2 linked regions of the Homo sapiens genome follow. The protein of the gene in region 1 purifies or fractionates together with the protein of each later gene. This does not show direct contact. Each region holds a gene or a part of one and is shown in the gene's direction. Other genes may lie near its edges.

The links. Proteins that work in one complex are often made in the same cells at the same time.
Region 2: the proteins of C15orf40 (region 1) and CLIC2 purify together in Homo sapiens (affinity purification with mass spectrometry; one large-scale study listed by BioGRID and IntAct). This does not show direct contact.

The regions. Positions count from the first base shown.
Region 1 is NC_000015.10:83,008,840-83,012,904, reverse strand, and holds the start of C15orf40 (UPF0235 protein C15orf40), read left to right. Parts: upstream 1-1,265; 5' UTR 1,266-1,297; coding exon 1,298-1,408; exon of another isoform or gene 1,409-1,419; intron 1,420-2,541; coding exon 2,542-2,668; intron 2,669-4,065.
Region 2 is NC_000023.11:155,296,615-155,300,114, reverse strand, and holds part of CLIC2 (chloride intracellular channel protein 2), read left to right. Parts: intron 1-969; coding exon 970-1,079; intron 1,080-1,204; coding exon 1,205-1,330; intron 1,331-3,500. UniProt on the Homo sapiens protein: In the soluble state, catalyzes glutaredoxin-like thiol disulfide exchange reactions with reduced glutathione as electron donor. Displays weak glutathione peroxidase activity. Can insert into membranes and form chloride ion channels.

The DNA.
Region 1 (4,065 bases):
TCTCCATTTCCTTCTCTCCACTAAAACTGCTGTAGCCCGGGTCACCACCACCACCCTGATTTCTAAATCTTGTGGCCACTTCTCAGTCGTTACATGTGACATGTTCTCTCCAGAGTGTTCATCACTGTTGATGTTCCCTCTTGAAGCGCCCTTCTTTAGCTGCCGTTACACCGTACTCCTACCTGGTCAGTGTCCTTTGGTGACTTCTCTACCTGCCCTTGCTGTTCTAACCTGGGCCCTCGTGCTCTTTACACACTCTCTCATCCATTTCCATAGCTTCAATTGCCATCTGCTTTCAGAAGATTCCAGAATCTCTATCACCAGCCTTGATTTCGCAAACTCCAGTCACATATATTCAGTTACCCCTTTAACATTTGTATTTGGATGTCCTGTGGGCATCTCAAACTCATTATGTCCAAAGCTGAACTCCTCACCTCGGCCTCCCAAACCTGTTCCTTGGGCCCCAAACCTGGGCATTTCCTTGACTTTTCCCCCTTATTCGCACATGCAGTCATTCCCAAGTTCTGATCATTTCAGTTCCTGAAGATCCTTGAAATGATCAGCGCTCCACCCTCCCTGCGGTTACTCTAGTTCAGGCCACCCTCTCCCATTTAGGGGGCGGATCTCCCTGTCTCTGGCTTTTCCTCTGTCGGCCACAGTGCAGCCGGTGTCTTTCTAAAACCCAGCAAATTGGGCTGCTAATAATCCCTTGCTTGAAAGCCTTCAGTGACTCCATGATCTTGCCTCTGCTGATTTGTTTCATGTCTCTCCATATCACATGTCGCAGTGTATTTCCTCTTCTTTTACATTGTGGGATCCGCTGCGCCTGGCACAAGGTAGGTGCGCCATCGATACGTGGAAGATTCACAAGGGCCAAGCCGCCACGAGGCTCTATATCGACTTGATGGCCACAGGCAGCGCGTGGGACTCTGCATCTGCTGCTTGGCTGTGGGAGCGAGAAGACACCTGGCCCTGTGCACTCCTTGCCGCGCTCTCCAATTCTGAGAAGTGACAATACCTTTCTTTCCCCGATTAGGAAAGAGGTGACACACCTTCCTATCAGCTGAGCAGGGTGGGCCAAGACACGGTGAGGCCTCAGCTCCGCAGCTCCACTTCCTGGGGCTCGGCCCGTTCCAGAACAAAAGAGACTCGCGCATGTTCTGCGGCCACGAGACTCGCTCCCGCCGGCCTTAAGGTGTCGCCCTCTGGCCAGAGCGGATGCGCCGGGCGGTGGGGCCGCTCCTGCCGGCTACCTGCGCAAGCGCAGAGGGCTCTTCCGGCGCCTTCCCAGGCGGGGATGCTGCGGCTCCGCAGCGGGCTGAGGCACCTTCGGGCAACACCCAATACTCGGGGCTCCGCTCGGCTTCTTTGCGCCGAGATGCCTAAGAAGGCTGGTGCGACGACCAAGGCCAGTAGCAGGTCCCGTGGCGGCAGAGGGGTGGGCCTCAGGGGTACTTGTTGAAGAGCGCGGGAGAAGCGGGGCCCGGGAGTGAGTGGAGGCACTGCCAGCGGCTTGCCGTCTCTCAGTTCCGGGGCTCAGGACAGCCGCCGCCACCCCCAGAGCTGCGGCCTGCTGCCGTCGCCCCGCCTCAGTAGGCTGCGCTGCCGTCCACCTGGTGATTTCTGAGCGCTGGGCCCGGCGGCAGCCGAGCTCTCCTTGGGCTGCGTGTGCTGACCTTTGGCCTCCTACCCGCACTCCCAGTCCAGCAATTCATGTTCCCGCAGCGGCATGACCTGCGTTTCCCCAGGAGGCTGTATTCTGCTTTCTCCTCCCTTGCTTTGGCTGATCGCACCCCTTCTGTCAAGAATACAGCACTCCCATTTCCACCATCTTTGTTTGGCCAACCCCAGTCCGTTTCTCAGACTCAGCTCAAGCACTGCCTCCTGCTGGCAGCATTCTCCAGTGCCCCAATGCTGATTTGCCTGTGGGGTAATGTTCTGTGCCTATCTCATCGGTGCACTTAGCACAGTGTATTATAATTTTGTATGTTCTTTCTCCCTCGCAGCAGTCCGAGCTCCTTGAGAGCAAGGACCATGTACCTTTTCATCTTTACATATCCATTGCCTACATATTTGTTGAACGAAAGTTCCTAGCACAGCCCCTGTCCCATAACAGGCCTTTAAATATCAAGCACTATTTTTTTTTCCTCCCTTTCCCGCAACATGCAGACATACACACTTTCACCAACATTTATTAGCTCCGACTGCATGAGATACAATGATGAATAATAAATGATCCCTGCCCCCAAGGAATTGGAAATACAAAGCAGAGGGAGGAGCAAGCATTAAGGTTTAGAAGCCAGAGTTAGGTTTTCTTGCAAGGGGGGAAAAAACACTGTTGGGTTGATGGGAACCCTTCGTGGGAAAATTGAGTAGAGCCTTGAAGGTTGTGGGAAAAGCTTTCTAGGTGGCCAGAAGTCCCTGGACACCACTGATGAGCCTAGTTTGTCTGTTAAGGGTGAAAGGGGGTAGTGGAAGAATCAAATTAAATGTGTGGGAAAATATTTTGTAACCTGTAAAGTTGTGTGGTTGTCATTTTAGGGTAAAAGCCAGAGCAAGGAACCAGAGAGACCACTTCCTCCCTTAGGTCCTGTGGCAGTTGATCCTAAAGGATGCGTCACCATAGCCATCCATGCAAAACCTGGCTCCAAACAAAATGCTGTAACAGGTATACCTGGACACTGGGGTGGGATTCAAGTGTGAATCAGGTGTCTCCTACAGCCCTCCTTTGCTTTGGTTAGCTGAAAGCTTATTCTATGACAGTTGATTTTTCACATCTGCAGTTAGAGGCTTCTCCATTTTAAAATTCTAGATTCTAATGTAAAGGTGTCTTAAAGTGAATATATCTTTAAATCATGCCAAGTTACACGAAAACCATTGTATATTTTCCTCTTTAAAAATACAGTATTTTAGAAAGGACAGTTATGGAAACTTGTGTGTAGTCTGGATTATTCTTAGTTTGTCCTGTTCCAAAACTGGAGACATTGGCCAGAGAAAGAAGAGACATTTTAGTGTAGTTTAATGATCACTGGCCTAAGGAGAGGGAGAAAACTTGAGATCTGAGACCCGTGATCAGTTCCTGTGCGAATTTGTTTTAAATCAAAACAGTATAAAACATTCATGGGTCCAGTTTTTTCATCTGTCAGATGAGATCGTTGGACTAAGTTAGAGGCTTTCAGGCTATTCTCTGGAGTGCTGGAGGTGCCTCAGGAATCAGCTTTGGGCAAGGAGGAGGCCAGGCAGACAGGGCTCCTGACTAGCTCTGTTTACATTTGTTTTACATATTGGGATTCTGGAGAAAATTGGGGGAAGGGATTCTAAAGGAAAAAAAGTTCAAAAACCATTGCTCTAAATTCTTTTGAAGGTCTTTTTCACCTCTAAAGCTCTGTATTTCAAACCATTTTTAGATTTTGAAAGGAAAACCACAACATTGACGTGCTAGACCTGGTTTATGCTGATGACCAAGTTAACTTAGCCATACCCTCCTTGGCCAGCATTTTCTAAGTAGTGGGTGTGGACACTGTCTACGTTGGAGTATTATGTTTCATTAGATCTAAAATGGGAGGCTGGATGCCATGGCTCATTTGTAAAATGGAGATAATAATGGTACTAATATCTTCATAAAGTTATTATAAGGATTAAAGAAGTTAGTATTTGTAAAGCCTTTAACACATTTGTGTGTGCTTAAAATTGGTGTATAGTAAGTGCTCTGTAAATATTTGTTAAGTAAACATTATTAAATTTTAAAAACACTCAAGATATGTGTCACATAAGAGGTGAACCTAGTCCGGGGCTCTCATTTTCCTGTTGAGGAAACCCTGCACAACCTTGTACAATCTAGTAAGCTGCCCTGTCCATACACTTCTTCAGTGACATTGATGAGGCTGAAGGCCATCTATGACTCCCTGCCTGGGGCTCTTCACATACCAAGGGCAATTTCCAGTTGCCTAAATCCAGGATATTCCCCAGGGCTCTGTAAGCCCATCTTGGTCGGCAAGATTGGGTCAATAACTTTTCTTCTCTGGATTTATTTCCTGTAATGGTAGGGCCATTTTTATCATGTTC
Region 2 (3,500 bases), on another chromosome or scaffold:
TTTGACCCAGCCATCCCATTACTGGGTATATACCCAAAGAACTATAAATCATGCTGCTATAAAGACACATGCACACGTATGTTTATTGCGGCATTATTCACAATAGCAAAGACTTGGAACCAACCCAAATGTCCAACAATGATAGACTGGATTCAGAAAATGTGGCATATATACACCATGGAATACTATGCAGCCATAGAAAATGAGGAGTTCATGTCCTTTGTAGGGACATGGATGAAATTGGAAATCATCATTCTCAGTAAACTATCGCAAGAACAAAAAACCAAACACCGCATATTCTCACTCATAGGTGGGAATTGAACAATGAGATCACATGGACACAGGAAGGGGAATATCACACTCTGGGGACTGTTGTGGGGTGGGGGGAGGGGGGAGGGATAACATCAGGAGATATACCTAATGCTAGATGACGAGTTAGTGGGTGCAGCGCACCAGCATGGCACATGTATACATATGTAACTAACCTGCACAATGTGCACATGTACCCTAAAACTTAAAGTATAATAATAAAAAAAAAAGAAAGGAAATTTGGTAAGATCTATCAAAATGGGAAATGTGCATACATTTTACTGACCATTTTCATTTTAAAGATTAACCTTAAAGATATAATCTCAGAAGTGGAAGAAGCTATATGCCCAGAAATGTTTGTTTCTGAAGTGCTTAGAGTAGTAATAATTTTGGAATATCTTAAATGTCTATCAATAGGAAAATTATATAAATTCTGATAATATATAAAATTTATTATTATTATTATGTACCCATCACAGTTGTAACTTTACATATAATGAGATTATTTGCTTCCCTATATCTCTCTGTCCATAGATGATGGAGTACATGAGATTAAGAATGTCCATGTTTGTCTCTAGCAACTGGCTCATTTCCTATTAGGAACTAAATACATACTTATTGAACAAACAAATGAACTGAGGTCTCTCTTTATCTTAATAGGCTGGAAGTGATGGAGAGAGTATTGGAAACTGTCCCTTTTGCCAACGCCTTTTCATGATCCTCTGGCTTAAAGGAGTTAAATTTAATGTGACAACTGTTGACATGACCAGGTAAGAGAAATCAGGACATGTTAAATTCTAGGAATTGAGATTGGTAGATACCAATAAAATATTGGTGTTTATTTAATGTGTACTTTATCTAGAGACCTAACTCTGCTTATTTTTAATAATCATAGAAAGCCTGAAGAACTAAAGGACTTAGCCCCAGGTACCAATCCTCCGTTCCTGGTGTATAACAAGGAGTTGAAAACAGACTTCATTAAAATTGAGGAGTTTTTAGAACAAACCCTGGCTCCTCCAAGGTACAGCATTTACAAGATACTATTTTGCTGAAGATAATCTATTTTACTGGCTTGTTTATTGCAGATTTAGTATTCTTACCAATTTAAGTACTTTTGGATTTCTGGGCCTACATGTCAAATGACACACATGCATAAACATACCCCTCCAACTTCAAATACAAAAAGATGATATGTGTAATATTTCAAATAATTTTTAAAAGCTGCATAACATACATAACACAAGAAGGTAAGTTCTCTGTGCTCTAGAAATAGAGTAGGAACATATAGTGAGATGGGAGTGAGGGAATGGGATACTAACACTATGTAATTCATAAGGATTGGTCATGACTGGTCCTTAACACCACTGACGAAATGACAGAACATACCCAACACGAGGGCTAGTGGCCAGGACATAGACTTCAAGCAGTTAACCAGAGGCCAGAACTGTACTGCCTACACTTGAATGACAACCGCACATCTCTGTCTACCCAGGATAGGTCTAGAAACAAGAAGCATGCTGTATTAATTTTCTATTGCTGTGTAACAAATTACCACAAACTTAGTATCTTAAAACAACAGCTATTTATTATCTCACAGCTTCCATTGGTCAGTTGTCTGGGCATAGCCTGCTAAGGTCCTCTGCTCAGGGTATCAAAAAGTGGCATTCAAGGTGTTGGTCGGGAACACAGTTATCATATGGGGCCCAGGTGACTCTTCCATCTTCATTCAAGTTTTTGGCAGAATTCAGTTCCTTGCAGCTATATGACTGAGGTCTTAGGTTATTGGGTAGCTGTTTGTTGGGGTTGGGTTGGCATTCAATTACTAGAGGCTGCCCCTCTGTATAGGCATTTCGCAACATGGCTGATTGTTCTCTTCCTCTAAAACCTGCAGGAGAATGTCTCTCTGATGGTTCACCTTCTTTTTTTTTTTTTTTTTTTTTTTTTTGAGACCGGAGTCTCGCTCTGTCGCCCAGGCTGGAGGGCAGTGGCACATGTTGGCTCACTGCAAGCTCCGCCTCTCGGGTCTCGGGTTCACGCCATTCTCCTGCCTCAGCCTCCCGAGTAGCTGGGACTACAGATGCCCGCCACCACGCCCGGCTAATTTTTTTTTTTTTTTTTTGTAATTTTAGTAGAGATGAGGTTTCACCGTGTTAGCCAGGATGGTCTCAATCTCCTGACCTTGTGATCCACCGGCCTCGGCCTCCCAAAGTGCTGGGATTACAGGCGTGAGCCACTGCGCCTGGCCTGATGGTTCACTTTCTTTTAAATTTTTTTATCAGTACAAATTATGGGATACATATGAAATTCTATTATGTGTATGTAATGCATAGTGATAAAGTCAAGGTATCTACGGTGTCCATAACCCAAATACAATACATTTTTGTAACTATAGTCACCCTGCTCTTCTATCAAACATTGAATTTATTCCTTCTATCTTATTTATGTGTGTACTTTTTAACACACTTCTCTTCATCTTCCCTTCTCCTCCCAATCACCCTCCCCAGTCTCTGTTATCTCTCTTTCCATTCTCTATCTTCATGTGATCAACTTTTTTAACTCCCACATATAAGTGAGAACATGCTATTTTTGTCTTTTTGTGCCTGGCTTATTTCACTTGACATAACAACTCCAGTTCCATCCATGTTGTTCCAAATGACAGGATTTCATTCTCTTTTATGGCTGAATACTATTTCATTGTGTATGTATACCACACTTTCTTTATCCATTTATCTGTTGATGGACACTTAGATCGATTCCATACCTTGTCTATTGTGAATAATGCAATAATAAACATGAGAGTGCAGGTATCCCTTTGACATACTGATTTCTCGTGCTTTGGATAAATGCCAATTAGTGAGATTTTTGGATCTTATGGTAGTGCTACTTTTGGTTTTTTCAGAAATCTCCATGCTGTTTTCCATAGTGGCTATATTTATACTCCCAAAAACAGTGTATAAGAGTTCCTTTTTCTCCACATCCTTGCCAACGTCTGTTAATTTTTTTTTTGTCTTTTTAATAATAGCAATTCTGACTGAGGTGAGATGATATCTCATTTTGGTTTTGGTTTGCATTTCTCTGTTGATTAGTAAAGTTGAGCATTTCTTTATGTACATTTTGGCCATGCCCTTTGCCCATATTTTATGAGATTTTTTTTATTGTTGAGTTGTTTGATTTCCTTGTATATTCTGGAT